Linked DNA regions of Homo sapiens. The protein of the gene in region 3 interacts with the protein of the main gene of each other region in a pairwise test. Each region holds a gene or a part of one and is shown on either strand. Other genes may lie near its edges.

Region 1 (6,969 bases), on a different chromosome or scaffold from region 3:
ACTAACATGTCACTCCATGTGGGGAAGCAGAGATAAAAAGGTCTTCAGAGAAACCAGTCCACAGAAAGATAATATAGTAGGTACATAGATGACTATGTGTAAGATTTAAAAAACAAAGGCAGAGTAACAGAGACAAAAGGAGAGGGAGAGCAGAAAACAAGGTGAGTAGAGGACAGAGACAAAGAATGAGAGGCAGTCAGAGACACAGAAAGAGATTAATTGCTGGCGACTTTCTAGATCCTACAGTGTTTCACTGTACTTCCTGCAATAAAGTTCCAGATTTCTGCTCCTTTTTAGCAACAACTCTTTTCCAAGCTATTTGGTAGATTTCTGATTCTTGCAACCAAACCTTTTTTGTTTGTTTTTTAAGACAGTGTCTCACTCTGTCACCCAGGCTGGAATACAGTGCATCACTGCAGCCTTGACCTTCTGGGGTCAAGTGATCCTCCTACCTCAGCCTCCCAAAGTGCTGAGATTACAGGAGTGAACCACCAAACAATTATTGACCTGAACAACTGCTCCATGAAAGAATTTCCACATAACTGTAGCTGCATCTTTCAAATGTTTAATTTATAACTGTGGTAATGTATGTACTGCCTAATGTAACTGGGGTATTGTAAAGGGGAGGCTCTCAAAAGAGAGGTACTATAATTTCTTTGTAATATCCTAATTGCTGTCCAAAAACAGACCTGGTTTTATAATATTAGCTAACATCTACTGAGCAATTCCCTTGGGACAGACAGTTTCAAACATGCAAGATCTCACCTCTTCTTCGTAACAATCAATAAGGTAGTCTCTACTATTGTCATTCCCATTTCACAGACTGGGAAATAAGAACAAAGACAGATTAAGTAAATTGATCAAAGTCACACCGTCAAAGGGATAAAGCTGGATCTATTGTTTATTTACATGAATACTGACATCTTAAAGATTAAGAAAAACAAGTTCATACACATGCATTTAAAATTCATTTCAGTCAATAAATTTTTGTTGAATGCTTATTATATGCAAAGTACTGATTTAAACTAATAAACTGGTTAACATCAATGTTACAAATATAAAGTCCTTTTAAAGTATCAATATCAAAATAAATCTTCCTTCCTGTGGTCCACAAAAGAAAAAAGATGTACCAGCACTTGTAAATTAAGTTTTTCAATTTCCAAAATACCTCCTTTAAAACAGAAGGGAATAAATTCCAACAATGCTATTTTCAATGCATTCATTATTTCAAAACTTACTGGAATATTTGAAGATTACTTGCTGCAAGCTGGACTCATGTGAAAATAAACCTTGACTTCACAGAGAAGTCTACATTGATAAATATATATCCGTTGAATTAATAACAGTGTAAGTTACACATATGTATACAAAAAAGTAAAATGACAAGGATGAGAGGAGTTTTTCATGGAAGGTGGTGGGTTGCCATGGATTCTGCTTCTCTTGATTTTCTGAGGAGGGCTTGTTTGAGGGCACTAATTTTCTCATCAAGTTCAGCCAGTGAATAGTTCTGCTGTAAACAATAACGACACAAATTGCTGAATAAGATTCTGAAGTATCTTAATGCAGATAAAGTGCCAAATGAACTATAAATATTTAAAATATTCAAAAGCATGATCAAATGGTTTTTTTCCCTCATGAGAATAATCTTAAAACTGAGCAACTATATATGTTGACTATATCATAAATTTAAAGGCATAAAATAACAAGGCTTAAATATTTCTTTTTCTCTTTTCTAATGACTAAGCTCTCCTGAACCTTTTATACTTAGAAAGAATAAGTTAAAAAAAAAAAAAAAGCCTGATTATTAGACACTGGAGCCTATTTGAAGATGGGAGGAGGGAGAGGACTGAAAAACTGCCTATTGGGTATTATGCTGATTGCCTGGGTGACAAAATTATCTGTACACCAAACCCCCATGACATGCAATTTACCCATGTAACAAAGCTGAAAAACCCTTGAGCTTAAGTAAAAGTTGGAAAGAAGAAGAAAAATGCTAATTATACTACTACCAGGAGAAAAAAATCATTTGAGACATCAACTATCCCTTTTAATGGAAAACTTTCTATGTTGATTACTAAAGTTAACCTGAAGTGGAAAATAGTGAAGAAAATACTTCTTTTACCTTCCAATAAAAATTGGATTTATTCAAGTCTACCTATGTGAACACCCTCACTTATATATTAATATTTCTAATTTAGACACAAGTATTATGTAGTGGCTATTAGGGGGTAAAGAGAAGGGGAAATTGGGACTGAGTGCTAATAGATACAGGGTTTTGGGGGGGCAGTGATGGAAATGTTCTAGACTTAGTGGTGATGGTTGCACAACATAGTGAATATACTAATAGCCACTTTAAAATGATGAATTTTATGTTATGTGAATTGTATTTTTAAAGCAGCAACGAAGTGTTACAGTTTACTACATAAGAGAATAACTTTTAAAAACCTGATTATTCTCATAATCAATAGTAAAAAAAGTTAGTTAACTTTAAAAATAGCTGCTTAAAATACTTAGAAATTCTCTCTTGAGGGATCAACTATAATAATTTACTTCGGGAAAAAATAGCTGCTATCAAAAAACTTACTCAGAATTTTACAAGAAAAAAATATGCTACTCTTAAAAATCAGAAAGTTTTCTCCAACTTTAAATTCACATTACCACTGTTAAATTCTAGCAAAGCCTTACTATTTAAGGTTCAACTAATTAGTAAAGTAGCACTTTAGACAGGGCTGGCTGAAGTCAAACTCTGCCAAACACCCTTTTTGATCTAGGTGCTGCTAATTAGAAGTGTTCACAAAAGGAAGGGATGGGGGGAGACTGAAATTACTTGAGCACTTACTATTTTTAAGCACTTTGTGAATGACACATCCTTGTACTACTAAAAGCAGGACAAAGGTTTTATTTATTTAACCTATCTGAGTCATTCCATGCCCTTAAAATAATTTTTCTATTCAACTGTATTAGTTTATACTGCCCTTTTCTTCAGTCCTAAATTTTACCAGGGTATGACCTAAAAGCAACCATAGTAGAAACTTTTATTAATAAGAAAGGTATAAAACTAATCAAACTATTTCAGAAACCAAAATGAAAATGCAGTAACTTACTTGAGGTGGTTGAACTTTTCTTCTTTTTCCAGAAAAGCTCTAGATTAAAAAAAAAAAGGTAATGTTTAGAAAAATCTAAGCATCATTTTTTTTTCTTTATAAAATACTGTACAAATTATGTACAGCCTTGGGAACCCTGACAGAAAAAAAACCAACCAATTTACCAATACCAATTACTGTCTGTAACCAACATCTACCTTATATTCTGCAAGTTACCCTCTAAAGAGGATGACGTTAACAATATATAATAGTAATATTGCAGCAACATGCTCATCCTTGGCAATACATATTTTCCCATCAACTACCCGCTGCTAATGAGCCTGAGTGATTTCGGAAAGAGGTGCTCTGGGGATTTTCTGCTTAGTTTTTTTTCATAACCTTTCCATCCTAGGGTATTGAACAAGTGAAGTGACAACAGACAAAGGAAAAACGGAATCTGGTATATGAGGCCAAGGGGTGAAAACACACATACACACACCCTGGACTGACTATAGTAGACACTGTGGTTGTTTATGCAAGCAGCTACCTATCCACTACTTCTCTGTGTGGCCCAAGCCAATGGCTTCCCGGTCTTGTCAGTGACTGAAATGGGCATGGGTCCAGTTCTGGCCAATGAGTAAAGGAGAGGTCTGCTGGAGATTAAGAGGAGAGCTTCTGGAAAAAGCTTCCTCACATCTTTTGAGAGAAAGCCCTTAAAGAAGGCAGTTCCTCAGGATACTGCCGTATTGGGTAAGACACCTGAAAGTGCTGTAGCCATCTTGCCATCTGCCTGGGAAAGAAGTTAACACCAAGCAGAGTTAAGAGGGGAAAGAAACCTGTTTTCTCACAATTATGATTTAGCCACTGAATCAATTAAATCTGAAGCTTGTGCTACCATGGACTTCCTATTTTATAATTTACATAATGTTTAAGCCAGTTTTGAGTTCAAATTTCTTAGTTGAAGCTAACAACATTCTCACTGATCCACTAATGAGCCTTTTAAACTTTGGCCTAATGAATTCTTTCTAGACTTTTTCTTAGTTTCACACAAGCACTAGCTTTTGAATGGCAAATTAGTAAATGAGTATATTTGACAAAGAAACTGTGAATGTCCAAGACAAAATGTTCTCATGAGCATTTCTGACTACTGAGATTTTAAAGACAGCATTAAAACTCACATTTTCCTTTGTGTCAAAAGTTGATTCAAAGAACATCTAGGTATGCTTATCAAGTTACAATAAATGGGAAATCATTAAGTATTAGAATTAGTAATTAAGAAATAATAGAGCTCAGATAATTATGCTCCTTCCTTTGCCAAACCAAGCTGGATACCTGTGGTAGGGCCTATGGGCAAATAAGGAATCAATGTTTAATTTGGCGATTGATCAGTCTCCTAACTTCCTAAGAGGTGGCTTTTTATACACTTGATGCAAATATAATTGCCCTTGGCCAGGCGTGGTGGCTCATGCCTGTAATCCCAGCACTTTGGGAGGCCGAGGCGGGTGGATCAAGAGGTCAGGAGATCAAGGCCATCCTGGCTAACATGGTGAAACCCAGTCTCTACTAAAAACACAAACAACTAGCCGGGTGTGGTGGCAGGTGCCTGCAGTCCCAGCTACTTGGGAGGCTGAGGCAGGAGAATGGCATGAACCCGGGAGGCGGAGGTTGCAGTGAGCCGAGACTGCACCACTGCACTCCAGCCTGGGCGACAGAGCAAGACACCATCTTAAAAAAAAAAAAAAAAAAAAAAAAAAAATTCCCCTTGTTCTCCTAATCGTTTAACCTGTAATATATTGATAGTTTCCATGCTATTAAACAATCAGATTACTACTGTATCATAGAACCAAAGCAAGAAATATTAGAATGAGGAAAATAAGGTCATCAGTCGCTCAGTGACTTAAAAACAGTAAAATGTGGCCTTTTGGACTTGTTTTAGCTCTGAGCAGAATATTTTGATAAAAAGAACACTTAGAAATACCATATCTACCGTGGATACACTAGATTAACTTTACTGTTTGTTTTAGGTATAAGGAAATCTCAGTACAGTTCCTGACTTATGATGGCTAGATAAGGTTTTTCAAATTTACAATGCTGTGAAAGTGACAGACATTCAGTAGAAACTGTACTTCAAATGCTGAATTTTGATCTTTTCCTGGGCTAGTGACATGTGATACGATGCTCTCTTGTGATGCTGGGCAGTGGCAGTGAGCAAAGCTCCCAGTCAGCCATGGGGTATGAGGGTAAACACCCGATACTCTACAGTGTACTGTGCTGCCAAGGGACTTTCCTCAACTGTACATGATAGGCCAGTGTACACATTCTGAACATGTTTTAGGCTAGGCTAAGCTATGATGTTTGGTAGGTTAGAGGTGTTGAATGCATTTTAGACTTAATAATATTTTCAGTTTTTGATGGGTTTATTGGGACATAACCCCATCTGTATAGAAGTATAAAAGGTGGACATTTTAACAGGTTTTGGTACCTGAGAGAAAATACTTGAGAGCACAGCACACTAAAGAAAGAGCTGGAGAAAGGTAATGCAAAATTGTCTCTCCTCACCCATTATTTTACCTTACCAGGTTCCTAGTCATGCACCGCTTAATGATGGGGATATATTCTGAGAAATGTGTTAATTTTGTCATTGTGTGAACATCATAGAGTATACTTATAGAAACCTAGATGGTACACACCTAGGCTATATGGTATAGTCTATTGCTCCTAGCATATAAACCTTATGGCATGTTTCTGTATTGAATACTGTAGGCAAGTGTAACACAATGGTATATGTGTATCTAAACACGTCTCAACATAGAAAAGATACAGTAAAAATACCATACTATAATTTTATGGGATCACTGTAATATATGCAGTTGACTGTTGACTGAAACATCCTTATGCAGAGCATGACTGTCATACACACGTTCACGCACATGCACACACACATATGAATCCAGGGAACCAGTGCTCTAAGGAAACTCAAGGGTAAGGAGGCCTCTTCCATGACTGGCTTGCTTTCTTTCAGTTGTAAAAGGCAACTGATTCTATGCGTGCAGTATCTAAAATGTTTTTCTTCCCTTCTAGTCCCAGAGCCCTGATTCAGACCTTCATTTCTCTCTGGCTTGGATAATGACATGTTTCCTAAACTAGTTTCCTTGACTCCAATTTCTCTCCAACTCAGACTTCATAATGCCACCAGACAGGGACCTAAATTACAAGTTTCTCTCTTTCTCTAAAACTTAATTGTGCTCCAATGATACTAGAAGTGCAAACTGGTTAGTGTGACCTTCAAGGCCCTCTGAAATATGTTTACAATCTAATTTTCTAGCTGAATCCAGTTGTTCACTCATGCTTCAGACCCACCACACGTTCACACGCACATGGCCTGTGTACATGATGTTGACCTGATTTTCAGCATTCCCCTCCCCCGATACTTCCCTTAAGAACCAGGAGTTACTGTTACAGACTAAAAATTACTCTCAGTCAGTGCTTTGAACAAAGTTAACACACCTTCAAAGTCCAATAATGAGCTATCAGCCAAGTCCTATCCATTCATTTGCACATCTACTCGATATTGACTACATTCTGTGTCTCAAAGATGAACAAGACATAGTTCCTGCCCTTGAGAGTTTCAAAATATAAAGTGAAAAACATGTATAAACATATGAGTGATAAATGCTATAAACTAAACAATATACTTGTAAAAGCATGTTGGTACTTACTGTTTTCAAGTATCATAATTTAAAATCAGTAAGTCTTTGGAAATACTCTAAGATCGTTCTTTTAAATGGACTGTTAAGGCCATGCCCTTAAACTTTTGAAAACATTACATTTAAAGCTTTCCATGGCTAATGTGAAGAATAAAGATCTTTAGAACTCTTATATCAAA
Region 2 (5,302 bases), on a different chromosome or scaffold from region 3:
CCGACTTAGCATTTTTGCCTTCACAGCGCTGGCAACTAAAAGGCTCACAGATACTCTGATCTTTAAGCAGATAATCATGGAATTCTCAACATCATATCCACTAGGTTAGGCTGAGGGTTCATCTATAAAAGTATTTTTCCAAAAATAATGCTTAAAAGAGACTTCTAGAAACAGTGGGACTGTATCAGGATCAACAGAAGACTTCTTGACCCAAAGATTCAAATATAGAACTAGGAATTGATTTTCACATGTAGTTTTTAGGTAAAGGACATCTCTTTCAGTTGATTCCTACAGCCAAGACTAGCTTTGATCCTGGGAGATTCAGAAACCTCAAGATGGGTAGCTGGCTTGAGTAACATCCTAGATAATAGTCCCAGTCAAAAACCCCATTGAGGTTGAAGGACTGGAAACTGACCTGTGTGAAAAAGAGCTATCAGTGCAGGAAAAGACTCATGCTGATTTTGACCTTCCTCTGACCCTTTTCCCTCAACTGCTTGGTGGGGAGTAGCGAGGAGAAGGAGCATGTGGCACCCTCATTGGAGGCTGGAGCACTGCTGCAGAAAGTGATCTCTTACTCATACTTCAAGACACAGCCTAAGTATGACCACCTGTATGGACCCTTCCCTAATGCCCAGGATCAAGAAAAGAATGTGGCCACCTTCCAAGGCTCAGAGTAGCTGTGCAATGACTTGTGTCAAAACCCGATCCAGAGCAGCAGTGATGAAATCACCCTCTCCTTTAAGACCTGGCATTACAATGGCCTCATCCTGCATGTGGGCAAGTCAGCTCTCTGATGGATGGTGCAATTTCCTTGGTCATTAACCTGAGGTCTGGGGCCTTTAAAGCTATTGAGGAGCCAGTGAATGGAGAATTCGACAACGCCTGGCATGATTGAGGGTGACACATCACGGCAGATGATGGCTGAGGAGACATTGCCCAGAAGTCTCATCTTAGGTGGTTGAGTAGGAAGTTTGTGAAGCAGGTGGTGGGTGAGATGGAGTGGGTAGAGATTCAGGTATGGAGATGTCAGTGTCTAACTTTCTTCTAGTCTTTGCAATTTCACAAGGAAAATCACTAAAATGTGCGTCTCTTCATTTAAAAGAAAAAAAAGTTCATGCCAAAGCTGCTGGGACAAAGAGGACTCATGATAGTGGGTTATTCCACACTGTTGACACACTGAATGTATGCTGGCAGAAGGGCCTCAGGTGGAATGCTGGGCATGGGTTTGCCCCACAGCAGTCTGATTCAAAAGCACCTGAGAGATGGGAGGAGTACTAGGGTTACTAAACACAAGAAGGTGTTTCAGGAGAAACACATCAAGCCATTTGTTTTTGACCCTTAATACTTAACATGAATGATGAGTTGCAGAACAGTCAGTCTTTCCAAGATGTATTGTTCTATCCTCAATAGCTGCAGCCTCTCCAAGCCAGTGGGCTGGTGACATCCAGGATGATCCTCTTCCTTGCCTGGAGGTGGGATCTAGTGCCACAGCTTGTTCGGGGAAGCTGGCATAGAAGATGATTTGCTCAACAAAGTCACCGCTAAACTATCGCTTAGGTCTAGTCCCCGGCCTATGGCACCAAGTACTCCTGGTAGTACTTGTACACAGAATTTCTCTATAATAACCAGAACATGTCATCCATGGTAATGTCTGCTACATATCCAACCACAGCATCAAATTCTGTCTGATGAAGGGCACCAGCCCCTTCATCTTTATCATGCCTAATATTGTGAAGGCCATGTGCTAAATCCAGCAATCCGCTCCAGTAGGTGTCCTTCAGGATACTTTTCTGTCAAGTAAATACATTTATTAAAAATAGGCATGTAGCCGGGCGCAGTGGCTCACACCTGTAATCGCAGTACTTTAGGAGGCTGAGGCGGGCGAATCACGAGGTCAGGAGTTCGAGACCAGCCTGGCCAACACGGTGAAACCCCATCTCTACTAAAAATACAAAAAATTAGCTGGGCATGGTGGCGTGTGCCTGTAATCCCAGATACTCAGGAGGCTGAGGCAGGAGAATTGCTTGAACCCAGGAGGCAGAGGTGGCAGTGAGCCGAGATCGTGCGATCGTGCTATTGCACTCCAGCCTGGGCGACAGTGTGCGACTGCATCTCAAAAAAAAAAAAAAAAAAAAGGCATGTAAAAGTTAATCTCATGGAGGTAGAGAGTAGAATGACAATTACTAGAGGCTGGGCAGGGTGTGTATGTGGGATGAAGAGGTGGCTTGATGGACACAAACATAGATAGAAGGAGTGAGTTCTAATGCTTGATAGCAGAATAGGGTGACCATTGTTAACACTGTATTGGGTGTTTCAAAATAGACGGAATAAAGGATTTGAAATGTTCTCAACACATAGAAATGAGAAATACTCAAGGTCATGGGTATCCTGGATACCCTGAGTTGATCACTACACATTCTATGCATGTAATGAAATGTCACATCTACTTCAATAATATGTACAAATATTATTTATCAAAAAGCAGGCATGTAGGTGAGTTGATTTTCTTCCATGTCTTCAAACTCCTGGTAATACTTGTCCACAAAATTTCTCTATAATAACCGGAACATGTCATCCATGATAATGTGTACTATATATCCAACCACAACATCAAATTCTGTATCAGAGGCAGAAGAGAAGGACAGCATGAAGCTCGATTCCTCCAACTGTCCTTTGGCTGGTGGCCCTCCACCCTGCCCACAGCCCGGCCAGCTCAGCCCCGTCTCTGTCCCATACAGAGCCACAGCCACAGTGAGAGCCTGGCAGCCTGCCCGGAGGAGGCTTCTTGGCCCAGCCCGGTCAACACCCACATGCACCACCACCAACTTTTTGCTATTGTGAATAACATAGCTGTAAACAGATTGCATATGAAAGTGCTGTGAAATCACCAAGGGCTGAGTAGAACAGTTAAGACGATAGTAGTTGTTTTCTTTCTGGGTTTTTCTCTTGGGCTGGTTTTTGAAAGTGGATCTACAACATTGATAGAGATCAGTTTTTCTGCTCTTCCAACATACTGCCAGGACGTGGTCCAGAAAGATTGGGTACTTTGCAATACTCATAGCAATATGTGAAGTGATTGGAAAAAATGAGACTATTCAACCAGTTGTTTCAGTGTTGGTTAGGAGGAAAATGCCCAGAAAGGGGAACAGTTAATCATCTACACAATACCAAGAGCAGGAGGGGATGACCGACGGCTTCATCTTTCCTAGTCTATCCCACACAGACCTTTAGGTGCTCTTTTTTTTCTTTTTTTCGCTCTGTCGCCCATGCTGGAGTGCAATGGCGCGATCTCGGCTCACCACAACTTCCACCTCCCAGGTTCAAGCGATTCTCCTGCCTTAGCCTCCTGAGTAGCTGGGATTACAGGCATGCACCACCACGCCTGGCTAATTTTTGTATTTTTAGTAGAGACGGGGTTTCTCCATGTTGGTCTGGCTGGTCTCGAACTCCCAACCTCAGGTGGTCCACCTGCCTCAGCCTTCCAAAGCGTTGGGATTACAGGCATGAGCCATCGCACCCGCCTCTTTAGGTGTTCTTTTAGGAGCTGGTAGCGGAGGAAGGTGGTTACCCATCTGTGACAGAGCCTTGGATGTCACGAGGCCACAGGCTGGCCTTTCCTCCTGTTTACAGGAGGTGAGTTTTCCTGAGTTCCCAGCCTCAGTGTTCTCTGCACAGTCTGTCACTGACTCCCGCTCCCAGTGCTCACTGCCTCTTGTTCTCACTGCCTCCTGTTCTCACTGCCTCCTGTTTCTGCTGAGTTCTTTGCATCTGCCTGATGTTGGTTTAAAGCTCCACCCCTCCCAGGGGAATTTGTCCCATGATTCACCTCCTCTTTGGTGATCTCTTGATTGCGGCTGCTGCAGCCATGTAAACCTTAAAGGCGAGCCAATTTGTTTGTGATCCAGTGGCCAAAATGGTTCACCCTCAACTTCCCTTAATCCCCTGCAGCATCTGAGACACATGGGTGAATGTATGTAAGGTACTTGGGGCTAACCAAAGTTAAATACATATGACAAGTACCTGAATCTAGATAATCTAATGGTAAGATATCGTTTGCTCTCTGGACTTCATGGGCTCACCCCAGCAATGGGGTGCCTGGAAATGAAGAGATCTTTCTTGTGTCTCATCCTCTGGGCTCCCAGCCTCCCTCAACATCATGACCTCCATCTGTAACACCCACCATCCTGGAGCAGCATCCTGGATATTGGAACTCTGAAGTCTAACCTAAGAGAACAAGGACAAGCCTCTCTATGAAAGGTTTGCCCTTCCAGATCCAGTTGAGCTCTGCTCTGGAGCCAGACTCTCTGAAGCATAGCCCAGCTCTAGCTCTTACCAGTTATGTGATCAGGAATGAGAGTTAATGTTTCTATGTTTCTGATTCTTCATTTGTAAAATGAGGATAATAAAAATTTAACTTCAGAGGTTTGTTGTGAGGAATAAAAGCCATTAGCACAGTGTTTGGCATATAGAAAGTGCTCAGTGTTGGGGAATATTGAACAGATAATGAATATCGCCAAGAGTCTTTTCCTGGGTGATTGATAGAAATTATCTTACCTCCTGCTCTAATGAATGTGGCTCAACTATTTAGGCCATAACTGTAATTATATTTGGTTATATGGCCCCACAGCATTAAAATTCATACAAGAAGAACTTCACTCACACATAGTAACTGGAATGCAGTAGATGTGGATAATTTCTTTAAAAAGCCTAAATCATATGGGTGGTTGTTTTTTCATAAACAGCCTAGGCTTAACTTCAGTTTCTCATCTACAAAAAGGGGACTGTACTAGGGTTCTCCAGAGAAACAGAACCAATAGGTGGTATCTTGAGAGTTATAAGGAATTGGCTCATGCAATTATAGGGGCTGGGAAACCCAGGACCTGCAGTGGTTATGCTGGAGACCCAGAAGAGCTGAAGATGTGGTTCCAGTCTGTCTGAAGCCTGAGACCCAGGAGAGCTGAAGACATAGTTCCAGTCTGAGTCTGAAGCCTGGGACCCATGAGAGCTGAAGACGTGGTCCCAGTCTGAGTCTGAAGCCTGAGACCCAGGAGAGCTGAAGACGTGGTTCCAGTCTGAGTCTGAAGCCTGAGATCCAGGAGAGCTAAGGACATGGTTCTAGTCTGAGTCTGAAGCCTGAGACCCAGGAGAGCTGATGGTGTGGTTCCAGTCTGAGTCTGAAGCCTGAGACCCAGGAGAGCTGAATACGTAGTTCCAGTCTGAGTCTGAAGCCTGAGTTCCAGGAGAGCTGAGGACATGGTTCCAGTCTGAATCTGAAGCCTGAGACCCAGGAGAGCTGATGGTG
Region 3 (8,690 bases):
GAGGCTGCGGCAGGAGAATTGCTTAAACCCAGGAGGCGGAGGTTGCAGTGAGCTGATATCGTGCCACTGCATTCCAGCCTGGGCGACAGAGCAAGACTCCATCTCAAAAAAATAAACAGGCTGGGCCCGGTGGCTCACGCCCATAATCCCAGCAGTTTGGGGGGCTGAGGTGGGCAGATCACTTGAGGTCAGGAGTTTGAGACCAGCCTGGCCAACATGGTGAAACCCCATGTCTACTAAAAATACAAAAAAATTAGCCAGGTGTGGTTCCTGTAATCCTAGCTACTCAGGTGGCTGAGGCAGGAGAATTGCTTTAGCCCAGGGCACGGAGGTTACAGTGAGCCAAGATCACGCCACTGCACTCCAGCCTGGGCGACAGAGTAAGACTCTATCTCAAAAAAAATAAATAAATAAATTTTTTTTTGTAGAGATAGGTTCATCCTATGTTCCCCAAGTTGGTCTCAAACTCCTAGGCTCCAGCAATCCTCCTGAAGCCCTGGGATTACAGGTATGAGTCACCACATCCGGCCAGTTTCCTCATTTTTAGGTGGGGCTGGTAATAGTGCCTACCTTGGGGGGTCAGCTACAAAGATTCTGGGGCTCTGCTACTCCTTGGCTGTGTGACCTAAGACAAGTTACTCAGCCTCTCTGTGCCTCATCTTTTTCACCTGTGGAATGGAGCGAATCATCGCAGCTGGTGTGAAGATTAACAATTTGTATATAGGAGTTGGCACAGGGCCAGTCTGGGGTAAGAACTCAAACATCAGCCATTGTTGGCGTTGTGCAAAAGTACTTGGAACACCGCTGGCCTAAAGGAAGGTTTTCCTGGCCAGGTGTGGTGGCTCACGCCTGTAATCCCAGCACTTTGGGAGGCCGAGGCAGGCAGATCACGAGGTCAGGAGATCAAGACCATTCTGGCTAACACGGTGAAACCCCGTCTCTACTAAAAATACAAAAATTAGCTGGGCATGGCGGTACGTGCCTATAGTCCCAGCTACTCCGGAGGCTGAGGCAGGAGAATTGTATGAACCTGGGAGGCGGAAGTTGTAGTGAGCCGAGATTGTGCCACTGCACTCCAGCCGGGGAGAAAGAGCATGACTCCGTCTCAAAAAAACAAAAACAACAACAGCAGCAACAAAAGCAAGAAAGGTTTTCCTTAGTTAACACTTTCTTCTTCTTTCAATCTTTATCTCATTTAAGTCTCACCTCAATGCTGTGTGATGAGTGTGATCATCCCCATTTTACTAGACGAGGAGACAGAGGCTCAGCCAGAGATCATTGTTCCCCCGGTTTACATGGAACAGAAATGGCAGGGCCAGGATTTAAACCTAGATCTGCCTGGCTCCCCGCCCGGCTCCATCCCCTGCCCTCCCCCAACACACATAGTATTTACCGGGTGCTACCCTGTTCTAAGCCTTTTCTGGGGGATTATACAGTAATCCTCACCACAGCCTTAAAGTAGGGTACCCTGTGAGTCTCGTTTGACAGACTAGAAATCTGAGGTCCAGAGAGGTTACTTCTTGGCTCAGAGGGTCACACAGCTAGCAAATGACCCAGCTGAGATTTGTCCCTGCTGGCCTGGCTCCAGTCCCTGCACTGCCTGTGGTAAGCGTGTAGCAGATCCAGATCCAATGTCCAGCGTCGTGAGGCCAAAAAAATGGGGGGCAGGGGGAAGGCTCTGCTGCCCCTCGATCCTGTGCTGTTGAAATAGCTGGAGCTAGCACTTTGGAAGGCCGAGGCGGGTAGATCACCTGAGGTCAGGAGTTCGAGACCAGCCTGGCCAACATGGCGAAACCCTGTCTATACTAAAAATATAAAAATTACCTGGGCGTGATGGTGCACACCTGTAATCCCAGCTACTCTGGAGGCTGAGGCAGGAGAATCATTTGAACCCGGGAGATGGAGGTTTCAGTGAGCCGAGATCATGCCATTGCACTCCAGCCTGGGCAACAGAGACACTGTCTTTTTTTTTTTTTTTTTAGGGGATGGAGTTTTGCTCTTGTTGCCCAGGCTGGAGTGCAATGACGCCATCTTGGCTCACTGCAACCTCCGCCTCCCTGGTTCAAGTGATTCTCCTGTCTTAGCCTCCTGACAAGCTGGAATTACAGGCCCATGCCACCAAGCCCGGCTAATTTTTGTAATTTTAGTAGAGACACGGTTTCATCATATTGGTCAGGCTGGTCTCGCCCTCCTGATCTCAGGTGATCCGCCCTCCTGATCTCAGGTGATCCGCCCTCCTAGGCCTCCCAAAGTGCTGGGATTATAGGCATGAGCCACCACTCCCAGTGAGATGCTGTCTTAATTAAAAAAAGGAAGAAAGAAAGAAATAGCTGGAGCTTGGCACAGTGGCTCATGCCTGTAATCCCAGGACTTTGGGAGGCCAAGGCAGGAGGATCGCTTGAGGTCAGGAGTTCAAAACCAGCCTGGGCAATATAGGGAGACCCCCATCTTTACAAAAAACAACAAAAAGTAGCTGGGTATGGTGGTGCATTTGTAGTCCCAGCTACCTGGGACTTGGGAGGCTGAGGAGGGAGCATTGCTTAAACCCGGGAAATCAAGGCTGCAGTGAGTTACGACTGCCACTGCACTCCAGCCTGGGTGACAGAGTGACACCTGTCTTTTAAAAAAGCTAGAGTAGGCCGGGCATGGTGGCTGACGCCTATAATCCCAGCACTCTGGGAGGCCGAAGTGGGTGGATCACCTGAGGTCAAGAGTTCAAGACCAGCCTGGCCAACATGGGAAACTCCATTTCTACAAAAATATAAAAATTAGCAAGGCATGATGGTGGGTGCCTGTAATCCCAGCTGCTTGGGAGGCTGGGGCGGGAGAATCGCTTGAACCTGGGAAGCGGAGGTTACACAATGAGCCAAGATCGTGCCACTGCACTCCAGCCTGGGCAACAGAGCAAGACTGTCTTAAAAAAAAAAAAATGCTGGAGTAGTTAGGATATGAGTTTGAATTTTTATTTCCATGATTCAATCAGCACCTATTCTCCCAAATGCCTTCTCTGCGTTGGGCCTGTGCTAGGTGGCACTGGGGACACAGTGGAGACTGACATGGCCCCTGGCCGCCTCCTCCCTTCTTGGGGCTCATAGTCTAATATGGGACTGACCTGTCTCCCCACACTGATGACCCAGAGTTGGCAGGGCTGGATGTGGGAGCCCAAGAGCCTGGAAACCTGGGAAATAAGAAAGGGCTTCCTGGAGGAGGAAGCATCAGCACTGGGGCTCAGACAACAGGGAAGTAGAGGGCACGTTGGCTGCAATTCGGAGGGAGCGCGGAGCTGTGCCGAGTCTGGAGTTTGGTCCACGGACCAGCAGCGCCCTCTGCTGGAAGCATTTCATAGTGTAGTGACCGGGGTACCGCGCGCATTGAGCCATGTATGTATGTATGCATTTATTTATTTTTGAGATGGAGTTTCGCTCTTGTTGCCCAGGCAGGAGTGTAATGGTGTGATCTCGGCTCACTGCAACCTCTGCCTCTGGGGTTCAAGCGATTCGCCTGCCTCAGCCTCCCAAGTAGCTGGGATTACAGGCGTGCGCTACCACACCCGGCTAATTTTGTATTTTTAGTAGAGATAGGGTTTCACCATGTTGGCCAGGCTGGTCTCGAACTCCTGACCTCAAGTGATCCAGCCCCCTCGGCCTCCCAAAGTGCTGGGATTACAGGTGTGAGCCACTGCGCCGTCCTCAAGTTATATTAGAATCGTGTCCTCCCAGCTTTGGCCAGCTTACTATTCTAGGACTTGATTCCTTCATTCAGTCACAATTTATTGAGCACCGACTTTGCATCAAGCTCTTGCTGAAGATAACAGTGCTGACAATATACAGCCCTGCCCTCAGAGCTTATATAGTAGAGGAGAAAAAGTGAACCCATAATATACAGTCAGTAGCGAGTATTTACTAAGTACTTTCTATTTGCGAGGCCCTGATAAAAGTACTGTCCTGGCCAGGCGCGGTGGCTCACGCCTGTAATTCCAGCACTTTGGGAGGTCGAGGTGGGCAGATCACCTAAGGTCAGGAGTTCGAGATCAGCCTGGCTAACATGGGGAAACCCCGTCTCTACTAAAAATGGAAAAATTAGCTGGGCATGGTGGCGGGCGCCTGTAATCCCAGCTACTCGGGAGGCTGAGACAGGAGAATGACTTGAACCCAGGAGTTGCAGTGAGCCAAGATAAGATAGCGCCATTGTACTCCAGCCTGGGTAACACAGCGAGACTGTGTCTCAAAAAAAAAAAAAAAAAAAAAAAAGTACTGTCCCTGTATTAGTTAACATTCAATTCTCAAAGCCTTAGACTATTTATATTTTATTGACTAGGGAAACTGAGGCACAGAGAGGTTAAGTTACTTGCCCAAGGCCTGCACAGCAAGTAAGTGCCGGAATCAAATTTGAACCCTGAGCCCAATTCTTAGATATCACATTCCCTTGCCAATAACATAATATATAACATAACATAATGATGTGATATATGTTATATAAAATAACTTTAGGGGCCGGGGGCGGTGGCTCACTCCTGTAATCCCAGAACTTTGGGAGGCCGAGGCGGGAGGATCACTTGAGGTCAGGAGTTTGAGACCAGCCTGGCCGACATGGCGAAACCCCGTCTCTACTAGAAATATAAAAAGTAGCCGGGCGTGGTGGCAGACACTTGTAGTCGCAGCTACTCGGGAGACTGAGATGGGAGAATCGCTTGAACTTGGGAGGTGGAGGTTGCAGTGAGCCGAGATCGCGCTACTGCACTCCAGCCTGGGTGACGGAGCGAGACTCCCTCTCAATAAATAAATAAGGTAATTTTAGGCCCTGAAAAGTTTTGTGAACAAAATCAAGAGGAGTATGTAATGTTTTGGTGGAAGGGTGCCATTTAGAAGGGGGCAATCAGGGAAGGCCTGCCGGAGGAGGTGGCCTTTGAGAAGAGACCTAAAGACGATGAGATCTGTGGGAAGAGAGATCGAAGCAGGCCACACAACCAAGGAAAAGGCTCTGGGGCAGGCACTGCAAGAAAGCCACCTGTCTGGGATCTAAAGTTTCCAAAGTTTTAGCTTGGCCAAGGCCCCTGCGCTACAATCACCCTGATTCGAGGTGTCCTGGAGGTTACCAGTTCCGCGTGCGAAGTTCTGCCATTCCCGCGGGGCTGGAGCCCCGAGGCTGAACTTCCCACGGGCGGTGGGCGTGGCCGGCTCACCTGCGGGGGCGTGGCTCCCGGCTGCCCCGCCCCTCGGAGGAGCCGCCCGAGGTCCCAGACGCCCGGCGCAGCGGGAGCGGCGGGGCGTGCCTGGCCTGCGGGACGCGACTGATCGCAGTGGGGCGAAGCGGGGCCGGAGCCGCCCGCGGTCAGGTGGGTGCCGGGAGTGGGGCGCGGGACTCTCGGAGAGCCGCGATGATGGGGGGCGGGGGCAACCCTGGGCCCGCTCGCCCTGAGACGGGGAAGGGCCTTGGGGCTCCCGGATGCCCCCTGCCCCGTCCTGGGGCTCTCCGGGATCTGGAGGCCTGGCTGGGGTCCCATGCCCCCCACCCCAGCGCAGGTAAACAGCGAGGACGGGGCGGGGCCTGGGAGGGAGAGGGAGGGGGCCCTTGTGACTGCGGGTGAGCCTGGTGCGCGGGGCTGGGCAGGCCAGGGTAAGTTGGTGCGGCTTGCGGGGCTGGGCCACGATGGGAGTCTCCTGCCTGCCTGTGTTTGTGTGTGTGTGTGTGTGTGTGTGTGTGGCTTTGCGTGTGTGTAAGAGAGTGTGTCAGGCTGTGGGTATGAGGGTGAAAGCGACTGTCCGTGTAACCCTGTGATGGGACTGTGTGTATGATGTGACACTTTTAGCAATGTGAAAACGTGGGCGACCTCTGACTGGAATGGTGTGTGTGTAGAATTGGATTGCTGGTAGCACTTTACGACCAAGAGCTAGTGCGACTGTAGTCGACTTTCTGCTTGGCCTGATGTGCATGTGTGTGGCTGTGTGTGTGGCTGTCTTCATGGCAGAGAGTGGAACTGGTTGTAGGATTAGGTGTGATTGACCAAGAGGCTGTGCGGCTGTGGTTGTCTTTCTGCCTGTTGGTGTGTGTGTGTGTGTGTGTGTGTGCGCGCGCGCGTGTGGTGGACAGTGTGGCACTGGATCAGTGATAGGTGACTATGATTGACTTTTGATTGTGTGTCACTGTGATGGTGCATGGGGCTGGGCGGAACTGTGTCCAGAAGTGGAGCTGTTTCATGGGACGGTGCGCGTGGAACCTTGGGGTTGGATGAGTGAGGTGTGGAGGTGTGTGAAGCCGTGTGTGCGTGTGTGTGTGTGTGTGTGTGTGTGTAGAGAGGAACTAGAGGGTGTGTGATCTGCATTGATACCGTGGCTGGCAGTGGTGTGCAACGGAGAGTTTGTGGGAGATGGGAGTGGAGACGTGGACATTTAAGTGGGATGCTCCTCCAAGCGGGTGACAGGATGGAAAAGGGGGTCCGCGTCAGGGATCAGTGTGTGGGACTGTGCCTATGATTATCAGCTGTGCGGTTGTGCACCCGGGGCTCTGTGTGAGTGTGGGAGCTGCTGTGTGTCTGGGACACAGCCCGAGTGCTGGATGGCTGTGGTTGAGCCGTGTTTGTTGCTGTGGTTGTCAATCTGGCTGTGGAGTGGTGTGTGTAAGGCTGTGTCTGAGGTTATAGAGGGAGGTTTTACATCGGCAAAATTGTGTGAAGAATGGTTGTGGTTGTCAGGATGACTCTTGAACCTGTGTGGTTGTGAGTTCAACCATTTATGATGTTTGTGTGTGAGGTGTGAGAATAGGTATGGTGTGATATACACAAGCACACAGATTGGCCGGGTGCAGTGGCTCATACCTGTAATCTCAACACTTTGGGAGGCTGAGGCGGCGGGGATTGCTTGAACCCAGGAATCCTAGACTAGCCTGGGCAATATGGTGATACCCCGTCTCTACAAAAACAAAAATTAGCTGGGCATAGTTTAGTTTTTTAAAAATTAAAAAAAGGTTGGCTGGGCGCGGTAGCTCACGCCTGTAATCCCAGCACTTTGGGAGGCCAAGGGGGGAGCGGGTGGATCATTTGAGGTCAGGAGTTTGAGACCAGCCCGGCCAACATGGTGAAACCCCGTCTGTACTAAAAATACAAAAATTAGCCAGGTGTGGTGGCGGGCACCTGTAATTCCAGCTACTTGGGAGGGTGAGGGAGGAGAATCGCTTGAACCTGGGGAGGTGGAGATCGCAGTGAGCCAACATCATGCCATTGCACTCCAGTCTGGGCAACAGAGCGAGACTCAGTCTCAAAAAAATAAAATTAAATTTTTTAAAGGTTGATATATACATCACATATATACACATACATATATCTAGAGAGAGGGAGAGATCAATGACGATCAAGTCTGTGGTGCACAAAACGTACAGGACCCTTACTGTATGTGATCGTGCATGTACAACATGTGCAAAAACCGCTGGGCTGCTTATGGTGGATGCAGTGGCTTGAGTGAAGTGTGCGAGAACGTGGCATCCCTCCACGCGTATTCACAGCTCTCTGTTCCGACAGTGGAGCTGAATCTGAGTACTTGTGTGTGCATGGCGTGTAGGTGTGGGAGTCCCTGCTGGCCAGGCCTGGAGTGGGAGGGAGAGGAAGTAGGGAAACTGGCGAGGGATCCATAGTGAATCTTGGGAGTGTGTGCATCTGGAGGTGCGTTGGGCACATTGTGGGGAGTTGGCTGCTTGGGAGCCATGTGAGTTCGGGGGACAGCGAGTGTCACGGTCAAGTGCAAGGAGATGGTCTGAATGTGAGTGATTTGGGGAGTGGGAGAGACAGAGTTAGTTTCTGCGTGGGTTGGCTTTTCTTTCTTTTTTTTAAATAATATTATCACTTTTTGACACGGAGTTTTGCTCTTGTCACCCAGGCTGGAGTGTGGTGGCGTGATCTTGGCTCACTGCAACCTCCGCCTCTCAGGTTCAAGCAATTCTCATGCCTCAGCCTCATGAGTAGCTGGGGACTACAGGCGCATACCACCATGCCTGGCTAATTTTGTATTTTTAGTAGAGCCGGGGTTTCACCATGTTGGCCAGGCCAGTCTCAAACTCCTGACCTCAACTGATCCACCCACCTCGGCCTCCCAAAGTGCTGGGATTACAGGCGTGAGCCACCGCGCCCAGGCTTGGTTTTTATTTCTAAGAGAATATACCTGTGTGTTGGGAGTGTATACAGATTGTTTTTGAAAGAATAGTATATGTGTGTGCCTGAGTCAGTGTGTTGTCTTAGGTTGTATTTCTAAAAGGAAAATGTAAATGTTTTTACTGAGTTGTATATTTAATAGGAGAAAGTGAGTGCGTGTTCTAAGAGGAGAATGTATATTATGCTGTCCTTTCTTTCTTTCTTTTTTGACTGGGTCTTACTCTTTCACCCAGGCTGAGTGCAGTGGCACTATCATGGCTCACTGCAGCTTCAACCTCCTGGGTTCAAGCAATCCTTCTACCTCAGCCTCCAGGTACACCATCACCACACCCAGCTAATTTTTTTATTTTTATTTTTGTAGGGATGGGGTCTCACTATGTTTCCCAGGCTGGTCTTGAACTCCTGGGCTCAAGTGATCCTCCTGCCTCAGCCAAAATCCCAAAGTGCTCGGAGTACAGGTGTGAGCCACCGCACCCGGCCTACATTGTGTTTCTAATGAGGGAGTGTGTGTGTGTGTGTGTGTGTGTAACTGTATTTCTGGGAGGGTGTG

Evidence for each region. The genes of interacting proteins can lie anywhere in the genome.
Region 1: the proteins of KLC3 (region 3) and MBIP interact in binary tests that used the Homo sapiens proteins (3 or more experiments, as listed by UniProt).
Region 2: the proteins of KLC3 (region 3) and PEX26 interact in binary tests that used the Homo sapiens proteins (3 or more experiments, as listed by UniProt).

Annotation. Positions count from the first base shown.
Region 1 is NC_000014.9:36,297,681-36,304,649, forward strand, and holds the end of MBIP (MAP3K12-binding inhibitory protein 1), read right to left. Parts: intron 3,144-6,969; coding exon 3,105-3,143; intron 1,511-3,104; coding exon 1,403-1,510; 3' UTR 884-1,402; downstream 1-883. UniProt on the Homo sapiens protein: Inhibits the MAP3K12 activity to induce the activation of the JNK/SAPK pathway. Component of the ATAC complex, a complex with histone acetyltransferase activity on histones H3 and H4.
Region 2 is NC_000022.11:18,100,978-18,106,279, forward strand, and holds the end of PEX26 (peroxisome assembly protein 26), read left to right. Parts: 3' UTR 1-4,419; downstream 4,420-5,302. UniProt on the Homo sapiens protein: Peroxisomal docking factor that anchors PEX1 and PEX6 to peroxisome membranes. PEX26 is therefore required for the formation of the PEX1-PEX6 AAA ATPase complex, a complex that mediates the extraction of the PEX5 receptor from peroxisomal membrane.
Region 3 is NC_000019.10:45,335,512-45,344,201, forward strand, and holds the start of KLC3 (kinesin light chain 3), read left to right. Parts: upstream 1-5,238; 5' UTR 5,239-5,335; intron 5,336-8,690. UniProt on the Homo sapiens protein: Kinesin is a microtubule-associated force-producing protein that may play a role in organelle transport. Plays a role during spermiogenesis in the development of the sperm tail midpiece and in the normal function of spermatozoa.